Regions from separate parts of the Homo sapiens genome. Here region 1 is linked to region 2. A link means that fine-mapping ties the variant in region 2 to the expression of a gene that starts in the linked region. Tissue or cell type: thyroid. Region 2 holds a variant in brackets; the other region holds the start of a gene. All regions are shown on one strand. Distances are between the middles of the regions.

Region 1 (8,101 bases), 48 kb before region 2:
TTTTCTCCAAACCGGGGTCTGGCACCCCCCCTTGGTAACCCCATCCCTGGCAAATCCCATCTCACAGGAAGACGGTGATGGCATCTCTTCTTTTGCTTGGGCCTCCCAGAGCTTCACCTGCCTTCCTCCACACTCCCCTCTGCCTGTCACCCTGTGTCTAGACCCTGCCTGGGGGACGAGAGAGTTCTGAGGCTTACCCACTCCCCCAGCTGGGTGCCATTGGCAGCGGGCAGGCAGTGGCATACGGGGTAGGCTCTGGTTGCCGTAGCAACCTGCCAAAGTCTTGGGTGGAGGCACATGGCCTACAGGGTGTGTGGGGGGAGGGGACTCATTTTCTCTGTCCTGGCTGAGGCCTCTGGGCTGCATAGCCTGTGAACCTGGAGCTCTGCTATTGGAGACATGGGAGTGGGTGAGTGTGAAAGGGAAGGAGAGGGCATCTAAACGATCTGCAAATAAATCCTAGAGCTATTGCATCACAGATGAGCATAAGAGATCATCTCTGGAAGGCCCCTGTCAAAATGCAAAGAGATCGCCCAGTAGCTCACCTGCTGAAACCCCAGAAAAGGCATCAGGAACCCGAGTTCTAGGCATACTTCTGCCACTGGTAGGCTGTGTAACCTTGGACAAGCCCCTATTGCTCTCTGGGCCTCAGTTTCTTCAATAGTAAATGGACAGAGCTGGTCTGGATTACCTATGAGATCCTTTGAAGCTCTGGGTGGCTATGCGGTGGGGAGAGGGAACACAGATGCCTGGAAGATGCCCAACTGGGAAAAGGCTGGGAGTTGTATCAGAGTTGACTCCCAGGCCTAGAGTCAATCCTGGCTCTTTGTGGGTACCTGCCGGGGCATAGGTCTCATGTCCCTGGCCAAGACTGAGACTTTGGACAGTTCCCATGGCCCTGATCTAAAATAAGATGGAGGCAGGGGGAAAACTGTAGTGCCTTGGACCCAAGAGTTTGGAGGAGGAAGCGTTCCGCAGGGGCATCTGGCGCTTGATCTCCAAATTGTACTGTCCAAAGATGTGCAACCCAGACTATGGCCGGCCCAGTCCATGGGCAGAAGCACCACCACCTCAGTCTGCCTGAAGCAACAGTCATTCTCATCTTCTGAGATGGGATTTCCTGGTAGGCTCCACGAGGCTGACCCTGGACAGCTCTTGTCCTGGCATCTCTATGCCCACTCCCTATCCCATTCTGAACACAGTGCCCTTCAAACAACCCCTCCTCCTTGGCTCTCAGGCCAGGCTGCAATGCCACTTTGCCAGCCTGGAGTTGGTACCTACCATCACCCCACCTCTTCAGCCTTCCTAGAGCCCCTATCCTCCCTGCACAGCTGGCCAGGGAGAGCTTGAGCCCATAACTCCAATTCAATCACTCTCCCTGCCATCTCTGCAGGGGCCCTGATTACAAGGAGTTGAAATTTGCCTAAAGCCCACCTGGCTGGTATAATGGCACCCAGTGGGCAAATTCAGGCTAGCAGCTCAGAACGCTGGTCATGCATTTTGGACTCGAACGCAGCACAGGGGGCAGGGCTGAAGACATGTGTACCTCATTACCCTAGCGATGTGAGAAGCAGTAATTAAACCAGGCTCCACTTAGAAAGACAGAGAGGGACACACACATCCCAGCATTTCTCAGTGGCTTTTCAGCCTTGGCAAAAATATTTAGAACAGTGGGATGGAGACTCGCATCCCCTTAGGGAAGACTCCTGCCCCTGCCAAAATATGCAAGGAACTCTGTTATCCACTACAGCACCCCCAGACCCATTCTTACCCCCGGACAAAGAGGACATAGCTGGCTTAAATTTTTCCAAGATCAAGGGTTCTCAGTATCTGTGTGATTTCTAGGGATATGCTTTGAGCTGGGCCTCAAGCAGTGGAAACCACCTCAGCACAACTATCTGCACTCTCCCAGGGTCCCTTGTGACCAGATCAGAGTCTGGGAGACAGATGGTGGGTTCAAGGGTCAGCTTGGGTCCCAGAAGGTTGTCTTCCACTAAGAAGCTGTGGCGGGATTCAGTCCTTACTGGCCATCTTGGCAGCCCTTTGTGCTAACCCAGAGCTCCAGGCCCACTGACATGCTGCTCAAGTAACCTCTACAACACCGAGGCCCCTCCAGCCTTGGGGTCTGATGAGATTTTTAGCAAAGCAGATTTGCGGAAAGGAGAGCAAGGAGAAAGAAGGTCCCCAGTAGAGTGACACATGTGCACGCAGCTTTGCACACTCCAACGTATTTATGAGTACGTTTTTGTGCCAAACCCAAGAAGGTTGGCTTAGGGTCTGTCTGGTCCCTCCTCACCCCTCACTTACCTCCCTCAGCTCCTTGGCCACCTCCTTGAGCTCGCGAAGGATGCCCTCAAGCTGCCCGATGACCATCTTCATGCGCTGTCGAATCCGCTCCCGCTCACCACCACTGCTGGGGTCGTCACTGGGCTGCCCGAGGTCCGGGGCGCCCCGAATGTTCATCGTTTACCACGTGGCCGCAGGCCTGCCCATACTCCCCCCAGCTGGGCACACACTGCGTCTGCCTCCACGGAGCCCCCCTCGGCTGGGCAGAGCTCCACATTTTAACGGCCCCCCAGCCCACCCTGGCCCTGGGCGGCCCTCAACCAGCCCCTGCCCCCTGCCACCCAGCCTCCTCTGCCTCTGGGTGGAGAGTGGGACACCCAGAGGGAGACAGAGTCTAGCAGAGGGGGTCAAGGTGAGGACACAGGAGAGGAGGGGGAGGGACCTTGGGTCCCAGGAGTGGCCTCCAGGTCTTGAAGTGCCTGTGGGTGTGCAGAGCTGATCTCTGCCTGAGCTTGAACACAGAGGCAGGGGGATGACTCTGCAGGGACTAAGGGTAAGAGATGCCCTTGGGATGGGGGAAGGCAGCAGGGATCCCCTCACAACTCCTAGGCAGTTGCAAAGGCAGAGGTCTCTGGATGCAACTGACACCTGCAGAGGGATGGTGGCCAGGGTCTTCCAGATGTGGAAGGGGCTCCGGATATGGGCAGCTCTGGGGAGGGAGCTGGATTGGAAGAGGGCAGCCCCCTGCGGAGAGAGCGAGCCTGGCGTCAGCCCTCCCAGGCTGCAGCACCAGCCGGCAATGCCGCTGCCTCCCTCCTCTCGCCAGCCTGCACCCTTCCTCGCTGGGGATTTTTTTTTCTTTGTGGGGAGGGGTGGTGGAGGCAGACGGTTTACAGCACAGCCCCTCCTCTAGAGGGAAAGGGAGGGAGCCCCTGCTTTAGAAGCAGAAGTCCTCAGCCTGCTACGGGGCACCCTGGCCGTAGCTCCCGCCCTCCCCCCCCACCTTCCCCCCAGCCAGGCCTGCCCAGGCTGGTTCACCAGAGGGCCTCTCCAGTCACCCATCCTCCCTCCTAGCGCCCCCAGGGTGCCCTCGTTCCCAGCGGACCCTCCCTCCCCCAGCCCCGCCTTCCCTCAGAACCCCCACTCCTGGACTCACCGAGGGTGGGGGCACCGGCCTTCCCTCCAAGCAGCGTCGGGGGCCAAGCCCCAAGACGGAGTTGGGGGGCCCCCAAGGCTCCCTAGGGCGGGCTTCTCTCTCTGGACCCTTCGGCCCCGGGCCTCAGGGAGGTCCTCCGAGCCGTGACCGGAGACATCTGGGCGGTGGGAGGGGGCGGGGCCTCCGCGCTCCAGGGAAGGGGGCAGGAAAAATCTTTCTCAAGCCTCTCCAGGCTCGGGGTCGGGAATGAGCGAGGGTCCGGCAGATTTGGGGCTCCGAGGCCACAGGTGACCGGGGCGCGGGGAGGCCGAGGAGACGCCGGGCAGGTCCCAGCGCGTGAGCCAAAGTCGGAGGGCTGGGAGGGCGCCGGGATCCCCTCAGCCCACGCCCGGCATTCCCCGGGCTCTGCACCGTCCGGGATTCGCTCTGTCCAGTCCAGATCGGCCGGGTCCGTGTTCCGCTGGGGTCTGCCCTGCCCTACCCCGCCCGGAGTGAGCTGGCACCGCCGGGCGCCCGGGACGCGCTCAGCCCGGACCCAGAACGTCCGTGCCCCGGCACCCGCGGCGTCCGGAGCGGCCGCGAGGGTCTGCTCAGCCCAGCCCCGCGGTCGGCCCTGGGCGAGACCGCTCCCACGGCTCAGTTCACGTTCCGAAAGGTCCGGAATCCACCGGGTCCCCGAGGAGGGGCGATGTCAGCCGCGGGGACCCGGTCCCCGCCGGGCCCAGCCGAGAGCGCGCGAAGCCGGGGGCCCCGGCCGGGCTGGGTTCGGCGGCCCGGGCGCAGGCGGGAGCAGCGCCGGGCGGAGGAGAGGAGAGGAGGCGAGAAGAGGCGAGGGGAGGAGGCGCGGCGAGGGGAAGGGAGGGGAGGGGGCGAGCGGCGGGCCGGGCCGGGCCGGGGCGCACTAGGCTCGCAGCCTCCGCTCGGCTCCGCTACCTCCCGTCCGTTCGCTCTCGGCTCCCCGCCTCAGCAGCCCCCGGGCGCCGGGTCGCCGCCGGTGGGGCAAACAGGCGCCGGGTCGGGGCTGGGCCTCCCTTCACCGCCTCGCCCTGCCCTGCCCCGCCGGGCTCCCGGGGCCTGGGCCCGCTCCCCAAGCGCCGCGGCGCCGCGCCGCCCGCGCCCCGGCCGCCCCCGGCCCGCCCCGCCGCCCCCCGCCGGACTGGCCGCCCGGGCGGGCGCTGGCTCCCTTAAAGGCCGCCCGGCTCGCTTGGCTCCGCTTGCCTCGGCGCTGTCAGGGAAGGGGCCGGCCCGCCGCGCCGGGAGGGAGCTTTTAAAGCGACACACACGCCTCCCAACCCCGAGGGCCAAGCGTGCGAGCCAGGGGGGTCTCGCCACCCGGGCGAGGGGGAAGGGTCTCGCTGGCGGGGCTGGAGGCGGACTGACCGGACCCCACGCCGGCTGACCTGGGGCGCGGAGGGACAGCGTTCTGGGGACTTCGTTCCTTTCCCACCTCTCCAGACACCCCCATTGCCCCCTTCCCCTACTGCACTGCCCCCAAGCTTCCCTTTTGGCCACGTTTCCCGCATCCAGACCCTCCCTTCTACCACCCACATAACCCAGCCCCTGACCTTGCCTGAAATCACATTCATTCAGAAAATAGAATACTGCCAACCTTTCCTGAGAACCTACTGTGTGCCAAGCTCTGGGTCGGCAGGGCTGGGGGTTGGAGGCTGTCTTGGACACCCATCGTTTCCTTCAGCTATTCAACAATTGACTCATGTATTAGAGGCCTTCTGTGCATCAGGTTCCATGCTAGGCTCCGGGGCCACCAGAGCATTTCAGGAAGCTCACGGCTCGGGGACACTCCTGAGTCACAACAGAGGCAAATTCTGGAAGCAATGTTAACAGGGGAGTAGGGAAGTGTGGGTTGGGTGGTGCAGTTCAGGCCAGGGCCTGGCGGGTTCTGCCAGGTAGGCCACCCCTGAGCTGAATCTCAAAGGAGGAGTAGGAGTGACTGTCAGTGTGGGGGGTTGGGGATCAGCATTCCAGGCAGGGAGGAGGGTGGGAGCACAGGCTCAGAAGCAGAAATGGGAGGAGGGGAGTTTAAGTTAACTGGGGCCTTTTAGATACCATTTTGACTGCAGACCACAGAGAGACTCAGAGACCATGGTTAGGAGCTTAGATTTTATCCCGGGGCGGAGGGAGCTTTGATATTGGGAGGAACCTGGGCCTGCTTGCCTTCTCAGGAAACCCCTCTGGGGCATTGTGAGTGGGTGTGAGGAGGTGCCACCGAGATAGAGCAGTTAGGAGGCTATTTCACCGTTGGCCAGAAGACAGTGGAGTCTATGAATCTATGCTCATGAGAGAGGCTGGGGCTTGAGAGTAACATTTTGTTTGTTTTTTTTTTTGAACCATCATTAGAGGGGTGAGATGAACAGGGACGCTGCGTAGAAGTAACAAAAGCAGTAGTTCTGGGCTGGAACCTCAGAAAAGAGTCCATGAGTGAGAGGGAGGAGTGATTAGAAAGATAGGAGAAGAACCAGAAAGTGGAGAGTTATGTAGGCCCAGTAGGAGGAGTTTGGGAGAAGCAAGTGCTCATCAGTGTCGAACGCGGCAGGGAGTGGCTGTGAGAGAAGGAACAGAAAGTGTCTATTTGTCTTGGTACTCAGGAGGCCACGGGTGACATGGCAGGGGCAATTGGTTTTGGAGGGTAGAAGGTGACAGGAACCAAACTGTTGGGCATCGAGGACTATGTGCCCAACAGTGAGGAACAGGAGTGAGTACAGATGACATTTTCAAAAGTTTAAGTGGCGGGGAAGCAGAGATCTTGAACTAGAGGCAGAGGAGGGGTCAAGGGAGGTGGGGCTAGGTGGTGGTTTTAGGCTGGCCCATGGGGGACTTGAATTCCAGAGACAGTGATGGTACTGTGGGTGCTAATGATGTTCCTTGGTCTCTGAGTTATCTCAGAGATGTATTCACAGGGGGCTGCTGGGGGAACTGACTCCTACTTCCTTGAGATTCAGCTCAGGGGTTGCCTTTGGAGAACCAGAAGCTGTGAGGGTGGGAATCCAGCTGCCCTGGGTTGGGGAGATGTTCTTCTGATGGGGTGGATCCAGAGGGCCCACCAATCACTTAAAAAATTGTAGCAAAATATGCGTAACATAAAATCTACCTTTTTTTTTTTTTTTTTTTTGAGACAGAGTCTCGCTCTGTCACCCAGGCTGGAGTGCAGTGGCGCGATCTCGGCTTACTGCAAGCTCCGCCTCCCAGGTTCATGCCATTTTCCTGCCTCAGCCTCCCAAGTAGCTGGGACTACAGGCACCCACCACCACGCCCGGCTAATTTTTTTGTGTTTTTAGTAGAGACGGGGTTTCACCGTGTTAGCCAGGATGGTCTCCATCTCCTGACCTCGTGACCCGCCTGTCTCGGCCTCCCAAAGTGCTGGGATTACAGGCGTGAGCCACTGCGCCCGGCCTAAAATCTACCATCTTAACCATTCGTAAGTGCATAGTTCAGTGGCACTAAGTACATTCACATTGTTGTGTAACCATCACCACCACCCATCTCCAGAACCTTTTCATCATCCCAAACTGAAACTCTGTGATTAAGAGCTGATAGCAGCCACTCTCTGTGGAGCACCTACCAGGCACCAGGCACTGGGCCAAGTACTTCCACATGCATTATCTTATTCCATCTCACAGTGACTTTCCATCACCCCTCCCCCCGCCAGCCCCTGGCAACCACCATTCTATCTTCTGTCTCTGTGACTCTGACTACTCTAGGTGCCTCATATAAGTGGAATCACACAGTCTCACCAATCACTTTTGTGGAAGCAGTGATGCTAAGGAACAGCCGAGACCAAAAATGGGCTAAGCCTGAAAAAAAAGAGTTTCTAGTCTTAGGTCCAGGGAATCATCCGCCCTCATCCAGGATGAGGGAGATGTGTTTGAACTGGCAAGGTTAGGAGACAGTGAGCTTGATTGGACAGGGTGGACTGTGACTGCTTAATACATAATTGATCTCGGGTCTCATTAATAGAAGCACAGTGTTTTGAAAAAGGGAGGTAACATTTCTTCTGTCATTTGTGTGGATCAAACTGTGCCTAGCACCTCAATTCATTGGGTGTGTCCATAGGAGGACAGCCAAGTAGAATAGGGGAGGTGACTGGTGTATATGTTCTATGAAGGATGGTAGGGCTGGTCAGAGCAGGCTAGAGAAGAGGAGACTCAGGAGAAGGGGTCTCTGATTGTAAATCTCCAAAGAGCTGCCACAGGCGAGAGGGAATAGATAGTATCTGGGTGGTGCTCAGACCTGCCTTCCTTAGTGTTTGGGGATTGATCCATCCTTTCTTCCACCCAACCTCCCTGGCCACCTGCCTAGATGTCCCATCCTTTAGATCTCTGCTTATTCACCGCCAACCTCCACCCTCTAGGCAGCCTTCCCTAGTGCTTTAGTCTACGGAGAGAAATGGAAGCACTTTTTTTTGCCCTTAACCAAATGCTTCCCAGGGCATTCATTTAATGTGCTAGCTGTGTGACCTTGAGCAAGTCACTTAACCTCTCTGAGCAAGGATAGCAGCCTATAAACATTTTAATTCTTTCTTGAATTGGGTCTCTTGTAAAAAAAAAAAGGGGGGGGGATGTATTTCACTGTCTCTCTGATTCAGAAAAATCAGGACAATAATGACTACTTTCCAGGGTCACTGTGAACATGGAATAAGAT
Region 2 (8,101 bases):
AGTGGCCCATCAGGGCCTCTACTGGAGCCCGTTTGGACATGCAAAAACCAGCCAAGTTCCAGACAAACAGATGAGTTGGTCACCCTAGCTGGAAAACAATTAGCCCCTTTGACACCCTTAGTTCTGGGAAGCGGGGAGCTGCCATTGAGACACTCTTAGATGGCTGGGGAGCTGCCCCTCCCCTCCTCCCACAGCTGTTCCTTGACCTGAGGTGCCAACATTGGGTCTGTGCGACCACAGGGTCTGTGGGTGCAGCTTCTCTCCTGGGCTAGTCGCCTGTGCGTTCTGCCCAGCAATCTCTACCTCCCCCCTTGGTAGGGAGACAGACAGGTAGATCTGTCTGTCTACCAGCTCCACAGGCAGGTTGTTATCTGATCTGGAGCAAGACATGTCCCTGGTCTGAGCCTTAGTTACTCCCTTTGCCCTTCCTCTAGTTCAGGAGTAGCCTGGTAGTGCCACTCGGGGGTAGCCAGTAGTGTGGTTGGGAGTTGCAGGACAGGAAGGGGCCAGAGATGGACAGCATCATCTGCCTCTGCAGCCTGTCCTGAGGGAGGAGCTCTCAGAGTGTGGGAGAAATCTCGCCCAGCTGCCACCCTGCTGTGGGAGTGGGGCGCCCATGGAAGGAGCCAGTCCGAGGCGTTCTGCCATCCTCTGCTCACCCACCCACTCCTGGCATGCATTTGCAAATTCTTTGGCTAAGGTAGCTAGTTCTCCACAGGCGCTATTACCTGAGACCTGCCAGCTAGTGACAACAGAAAGCCCGCACGTTGACGTCCCTCTTTGGCTTGCCTGGAAGTCTACTCGGGGCTGCAGGACTGGCAGGAGCGGGGGCTAGGGTCAGAGTGGGGCAGAGACCGTGGCTGCTTATGGGGCAGGGAGAGGGTCTGGGCCGGGTCAGGGGCTGGGGGAGTGGGAGGATCTGGAGAGGATGGGCTTTCCTGGGGAGCTGGGGGAGCATCCCATGGGTGTGCTCTGCTGAGTGACACAAATCTGGCTTTCACTCACTCATTCATTAATGCATTCATTCATTCACTCATTCATTCATTCGCTCAACAGAGGTTTACTGAGCAGCTGCCAACTGCAGGCCCCATTCTGGGCCCTGGGGGAACTTAGGAAGGAAACAGGCCAAAGCCAGAATACCAGTCCCAGGAAGCCACCTTTTCTCCAGGGGTGTGGTTCATGCCCCCTCCTGGCTTGGCCCCCTCCCTGGTGGACCCCCTACCTTCTCTATCACAAGTCCAGGTCTGCAGTAAGGTAGACACAGGGTCCTGGGGTTCCAACCTGGTCCAAGGGAGCAGCCTGGAGTGTGCTTAGAAACATTTGTTGACTAATGGGCTCAGGGACTGAGGGCCTGGGGAGCCTGATCAGGGAGCCTGCACCTGCCTGTCCCTCGATGTCATTCCCTCAGTCTTCCCGGCACTGAATGAGGCCCAGTGTGGGCAAAGCCGCGTCATCCTTAGCAGGGGCCCCCATCCCAGGGCTTATGAGGCACCCCAGCTCCCCAGGAGCCCCTCTGGGAAGCTGCAAACTCTGCTTTCCATACTTCAGAATTCATCTGTCCTGCCACCCCTTCCTTCAGACCCCCTGGGAGTCAATGGGACTCAAGGGATCAGTGAAATAACCCAAAGTACATTTATGATACAACCCCCTCAACCATGCATTCTGCACCTCCACACCCCTCCAAAGCCCTGCCCTTGGGGAGCCTGGAGACACATGGAGAGGGACCTGCCTGGGTCCTAACAACTGTAACATGTGAACACTGACCCCAAGTGACATGGAACCCTTGTGATATGGCAGGTGCCACACTTGGCACTTTACATACATAGTCACATGCACTGCTTATAGTAACCCCGGAATAGGCACTATCACTATCCCCATTTTACAGATGAGGACACTGAGGTGTAGGGAGGGCTCTCACTTGCCCATGATCATTCAGCTGGGGAGTGGGACCTCACACACAAACCCAGGGGTCTGACTGCTGAGCCCATGCTCCTAATGTCCACACGGTGCCCTCCTACGAAGCGAACCTAACAGCAGAGCACGATTAACAGCAGGTGAGGACAAAAGTACATCAGCCTGTTGGTGCTCAGAGGGGACGAGGCCCCTGTAAACGGAACACTCAGCGAAGGGCCCTAAAGGAGCGGGGATGGGGGCTCCTCAAGGCAGATCCTGAGCAGGACCCGCCCAGCACCCGCTCCCAGCCTGTCAGGAAGGCTGAATGAAAGAACACCGTGTGGATCTTCCTCTGGCCCTTGGAGGCTGTGCCCTCTGCTCAGAGAGGAGGAGCAAGGACATTAGCAGGAAGGGCTGCAGAGTGAGCTAAGGTCTGGAGGTGAGGATGACTCTGAAGGCCTTCCTGGAGAGCAGGCTGAGGAGGTAATGCCTGACTTGGTGGGGGAGGGGTGCTGAGGACCCGCAGGCCACTGTGGAATTGGACCCATCTGGCTGAGGCAAAGGCGCTGGCAGTTATGTTGCACTAAGTGGGCCAAGAGGTGACCTCTGCTTTGGTCTGACTTTGGCCACAGACCTAAGAATCTGGATACAGTTGGGCTAGAAGGGCCTTGGCAGACTGCACAGCTCAACCTGTCTTGTGCAGGTGGGAAGTGGGAGATCCAGGGAGGAGGGACTTGCCTGCACCCTCCCCACCTCCTGCTTGGGTGTGTGGCCCTCCCGCTGGGTGGGAAGAGCAGGCAGGAAACATTGTCTGAGGTTTCCAACCACACGGGAGGAACCCTGAAAAGACATTCCTGAGAGAGGCATAAACTAAGACCTAGAAAAGACAGAGGCTGACCTCACAGCCCCTGACTTCCTGCTTCAACCTCCCTTCCCAGCCCAGGCCAGTCTCTTCCCCATGGTCGCACCTTTGCTCAGCAGTTCTTCCCAGCGGGAATGACTGCCCCCACTTTCTATCTTTCTGTCTCTCTAACACTCACTTGATATTGACTGGACTTTTATGTATAGTTGGGCCCAACCCTTAGAACTAGCTCCAAGGGCTCTGGTTCCTCCAAGAATTCTCCCGTGATCGCATCTACCTGCTGACCTCTCACTCCCTTGTGTGACCCTGAACCTGAGACTGGCTCTGACGAGACAAATGGGGTGCTGTGAAACTTCCCTCATCCGTCCACAGGCCTGCTGCTCCTCCCCTGCCATGCTCTGAGCTCCCTGAAGAGGTGACCCCACTGCAGGCTGCCCTCCAGTCCTCTCTGCAACTCCCAGAGCAATCATACTGGAGAAGAGAAGGTCACCAAGGCCTGGGTCCCAGGGGAAGCTGAAGAAGACCCCTCCAGCTCACACTGCCTGCCCTTGTCACCTGCATGGACAGAGAAATGGCTTCTGTCCCTGCAGTCAGACAACCAGGCTTGTGGGCTCTGTAATCTCCATGACTTTATCCACCCTTCCCCTCAGGGTCTTACGGGACATCGCTATCTTTCAATCTCTCCAAGACTTATTTAGCCAGAGTCTTTACCACACTCCTACCTGAGTTTATCCAGCTTCTCTTGCATGCCTCCGGTGACAGGCTGCTCACTATCCACAGGGTCACTTCTTATCCTACCAGGGCTGGTCAAAACCTGTGTCTCTTTAGGTCAGCAGTGCCTGGTGCCAGAGGTCCTATCAGTAGACCCAAAGCTGGGTGAACAAAACAAAGGCTGGGCAACTCACTGTCACCTGGGCATGTGACCAGCCTTTGCTCTCCACTCTGGCTAATTCTTTTGTCTGGGGGCCACATCGCCTGCCTGCCCTCCCTCCTTCTGTGCGATTTTCTTCTTCTTCTCTCTTTCCTCCCCCCACTTCCTTGTATCTAAGGATTGCATGAGTCACTTCACTTTGAGCTGCCAGATGTCGGATGCAGTTGGGCTTGGAGTGGAAGCCAATTTTTTCCCTTTACTCAAAAAGAGCTTGGGGCTGATGAAAGCCCCCAACACTGTCATCCTGGATTTTTCAGGACGGTAGGATGGCTGCGTCAGCTAGCACCACTTCTTCCAGGTTCTGGCCTGCCCACCGTCCGTTCCCAACTTGGGAGGGCAACTTGTCCTCTCACTGGC[A/G]CCAGGCATAGGGCCAGGCCAGCTCTGTGCAGTCCAAGGCACGCTCAGAATGGCCCTCATCATCTGGCCATGCAGAGCTTTGCCAGTCTGAGTGGAGCCCAGGGCTCAGGGCCAATCCCCGCTCCATCCAGGGAGTTTTCAATGAGAGCTAGGTACCTAGCTCCATGCTGGAGCTGTGGGGGAGACAGGAAAAAATAAAGAAGGGCCTCGCCTTCAAGGAATTGGCAGTCTGTCTAGGGAGATGAAATTCATACAAATAGTGGTTCATGCGTTTCTGTTTGGATTGTGCATCCACTCCCAGACATGACCTCATCCAGTTCTCACAGCTATTCAGCATGGGTGTCATCATCTTCGTTTTACAGATGAGAAAAATGGGGCTCTGAGAGATTAAGTGACTTGCCCAGGTCACATAGGTGGTTGTGGAGCTGGGCCCTGCCTCATTCGCTGGGCTCCAGAGCCTGGCATCTGTGCTGAAGTTGGAAAGGAGGGAGGGATGGCTTCCAGGAGGAGAAGGCCCACTGTCCTCTCCCCGTCTCCTCCAACTGAGGCTGGGCTCTCTCCTTTGCCATGAGAATATACCTATCTTGAGCACATTCCAGAGGTGCTAGGCAGGCCAGAGATCTTGTCTGTTGGGGAGTATGGAAGTGGTGGGGTGCTTTCTTAGATTGGGCTCCCTTGAACCTAAAGCCTGGGGCCAGGACTTGGGTACAGGAAGTGTATTGGGAGATTTCAGGAAGAGGGTAGCTGGGTAGTGAGACAGGGAAGGAGGAAAAGCTGATATAAAGGAGCATTAACAGAGAAGCCGCTGTGGAGGGCAGGGCTCTACTCCCCTGGTATCTCCCAGGACTGAAGGCCTAAAGGACGGAAGTCAGGGGGGCGGGTTATATATTGGCCACCATCACCCATTGGTTGGGGGGCTTCTCCAGGGAGGTGATGGCTCCTCTGGACTCCAGGAAGAAAGTGGAATCCCTGGCCTCAAGTGCTTGAAGCGGATGCTGAACTTGCACAGAACTGCCTATCCCAGAGTGTGGCTGGGCTGGAAGTGTCTTCTGCGGCAGAGAGTTAGGAACATTTGGTTCCGGGCAACCACATCTTAGGCCCTGCTGCCACCATGGAAGGCCCTGCTTCAATGACCCAGTGGGCAAGTTTTATCGAGCAGTTACTGGTGGGTGTCTGGCTGGGAGTCCCGGAGTCAGGTCAAGAGAGAAGTAAAGATTTAGGGGAAGGGGAAGAAAAAGACGTCTACACACTCCTGATTCATTTTGCCTACCGTCAGCATCAGTTCCGTAAATCTCTCCCCTTCCTGCTGGCTGGCTGGTTCCTCAAGGGCAAGAATCAAGTGCTATCCATCCGTGTGCTCAGCTCCAGCACAGGGCCTAGCCCCGACATGCCCAGAGGTGCTGCACTGAAAATCCAGCATGGGATTATGGCCCAGCCTTGGCTCTTGGCTGCCAAAGGTTGAATGTGGGTCTCTGGGCTCATCTCACAAGGCCCTGGGTCTCCAGGGCAGGGGAAATGAGGAGCAAAGCCACCCTTTTTTTTTTGTCATTAACAGAGTAGGGCCTCTGGCTCATAAAGCCCTGGGATCCCGCTCCCTCCCTTCTCTTTCCACTTGATTACTTGTCTCTGGAATGGAGTGGTTTCAGGCTGCCAAGTGTTTTGGGGAAAATATCCTGTATAAGAAAGACACATTCCCTCCATAAACTCGTATTGTGTTTTTGATTGTCTCCCATAAAGGAAGAGATGTATCTTCCAGTTTATGTTTACGACTGTGTAGATTAAAAAAAATCAATTCTTTCACTCTACATTTTTTCAGCCAAACTTCCCCCAGCAGCCTTTCTGCTGGGCCAACAGGCTGATGCCCAGAACTCGGGGCTGGAGGTTTCTCTGCCATCTGTAGGCAAGCAGGAGAGGCCAAAGCCTCGGACTGGCTGCAGGCCTGGCACAGGAAGGGAACTTCTTGTCCCTGCTTGATTTCTAAGCCAAGTTGGCTCTGGAAGGCAAGGGGTTGGCTGAGAGAAGGTGGCCGGCAGGGAAATAGGAGGCAGCCCCAGCCTGCACCAGCACCCTTCACCAGGCCCAGTGAAGCCTCTGATGGAGGTGGCAGGGAGCTCTCCCCGACCAGCCTCAAGTGCTGCTGCCTCCTTCATGAAGCCTTCCTGATTGCCCAGGGTAAATGGAACTCCTTGATCTGTTAGCTTCTTTGCTGGACCCTCTAGATTGATTTCTGATTGATTTTTGTCTGCTCCAGGGTCATTTGGAGTGATGGTTGCCTGGTATTTGAATAAAGAGCTCCCCTATCAGAACATTCAGGTTCAAATCTTAGTGCCTCTGTTCCTACTGTATGACCTTGGGCAACCAACCTACTTAACCTTTCTGAGTCTCACTTTCCTCAACTGGCAGATGAGGGGCATTTTGAGGATTAAACCAGGGGTATTTTGAGGATTATGGTCGGGTTTCAAACCATACCTTCTTTCCTGCTTTCTTTTTCTCCACATCACTTAGCACCATCTCACATCTTATGCTTCGTTTTGTTCAGTGCCTGTCCGCCCTCACTCCAGGAGGGCAGGGGTGCCTGTGCATTGCTCCCTGCCACATACCTGGCACAGAGAGGCGGCTCCATGGAGCGGACCGGATGGATGGTGCAGGATGAGCACCAGGCTCCGCATCAGGGCACAGTAAATGTTGGCTCTGTGCCCTTTCATGTCTGGAATCCCCAGTTTGGCATTGCAGGCAGGGGAAGCACTGTCCATCCAAGGCCGATCCTGAAGGTGGCCCAAGAGCCTGTCCCCAGCAGCAGACTGCAAACCCTTTGGGTACAGGGACTGTCTCTTGCCATTCCAGGGTCCTCAATGCCTATCAAGGGGCTTGCTCACATGGGCCCTCTTGGGATCAGAATTTCTTCCTATAAGAGGCCAGAGAACTGATGGAGGGTAGTTTTAGTCTAAACCATGCTGGCGGGTGCCAGGCTGTGGACTGCCCCATGTCTGTCACCAAGCTCAGCCCAGATGAGCCAGGCATAGGTCACCAACACACTCGCCCACCAGCTCAGCCCACAGCTCACACTAGCCTCAGTTATCTGGTTCCAGTTTGCCAAAGGCACTCTGACTCCAAGGTGGAGTGGGGAAGCCACTGACTTCTGTGTCTGGCAGGCTCCATTTCTGGAGAGTCAACTGAGGCCAAGCCCAACCTTCTTGAGCCTCACTTTTGACATCTGCAGAATGGGTGTGGGTGGAGATTTCAAGCAGGAAGCTAGTTCTCCAGTGGGACCCCTTCTCCTGGCAGCCCCTCGACTTGCCGCAAGTTCCAGCAATCACCCCTCACCTCCCTCTGCTTTTCCTCAAACCTTTTACAACCTTTTATTTTGTCTAATCCTCATGACAGATTGGTGGAAAAGCCACCAGGAGTTATTATGCTCATTTTAAAGATGAAGAGACTGAGGCCAAGAGGCAAAAATCATGCTTGGGGGTTGGCGAGGGGGTCCCCCAGCAGCCTGGGGCCAGACAGACAGTTCTCCTGCCTACCAGGCAAGCCCCAGCACCAGCTCCAAGCATCTGGAGGGCTGCAGCAGGGCGCTGGAGGGCTGCCCCCTGTCCCCCTCCCTCCCTCCCAGCTCCACTGGGGGGGTCTGCCGGGCTCTTCTCCCTCTGCCTTCTAATTGCTTGGAAACAGAGCTGACGGCAGTGGGAACAGCTCAGCCACTGCTGGTCTCATGACTGGAGGCTTTTGTTTGTTCACAGAATCATATTTTTACACTCTGGCTTCCGCTAATTTATGCCGCAGACTGAGCTCTCCCTTGCTGAAGATTGAGTTTGGGAGGGTGGGGAGTTGATTCCTGGGTTTATTTAGTCATCTTGGAGCCTATCAGAAGCCAAGCAGGGGATAAATTAACAACAACAAAAAGTAATAATAGCCAGGCTCAGGGTTTATTTTCTGGCGGTTCCCTCCTCCAATAGGCCTGCCGTGTTCCCTTAGCTCATCTGCTGAAGGAAGCTTCGCTGGGAAAATTAAACGGCTCCTCATTTAAGATGGAGCAATCAGCCCTGAGCTAGTCGCTG

Which allele goes with the higher level. Positions count from the first base shown, and alleles are read on the strand shown. Sizes are in standard deviations (SD) of each study's normalised expression.
As copies of G replace A in region 2, the expression in thyroid of the gene that starts at base 4,684 in region 1 goes up (large effect, 0.86 SD a copy in GTEx).

What was found. PIP is the estimated chance that this variant, and not a neighbour inherited with it, causes the effect.
Region 1: INSYN1 starts here. The variant in region 2 is fine-mapped to the expression of INSYN1 in thyroid (GTEx, PIP above 0.99). The same link has a PIP of 0.9 or more in aorta and tibial artery.

Annotation. Positions count from the first base shown.
Region 1 is chr15:73,748,668-73,756,768 of GRCh38, forward strand. INSYN1 (inhibitory synaptic factor 1) reads right to left here and starts at 4,684. Exons shown (of 3, transcript NM_001039614.3): 1 at 3,443-4,684; 2 at 2,308-3,030. The coding sequence starts at 2,463. RefSeq lists an enhancer at 2,801-3,574.
Region 2 is chr15:73,796,928-73,805,028 of GRCh38, forward strand. No RefSeq gene overlaps it. Among named protein-coding and RNA genes, the nearest start is that of INSYN1-AS1, 33 kb to the left of the region's middle. RefSeq lists enhancers at 321-1,279, 1,867-2,546, 2,547-3,225. The variant A/G (reference allele first, on the strand shown) is at 4,044.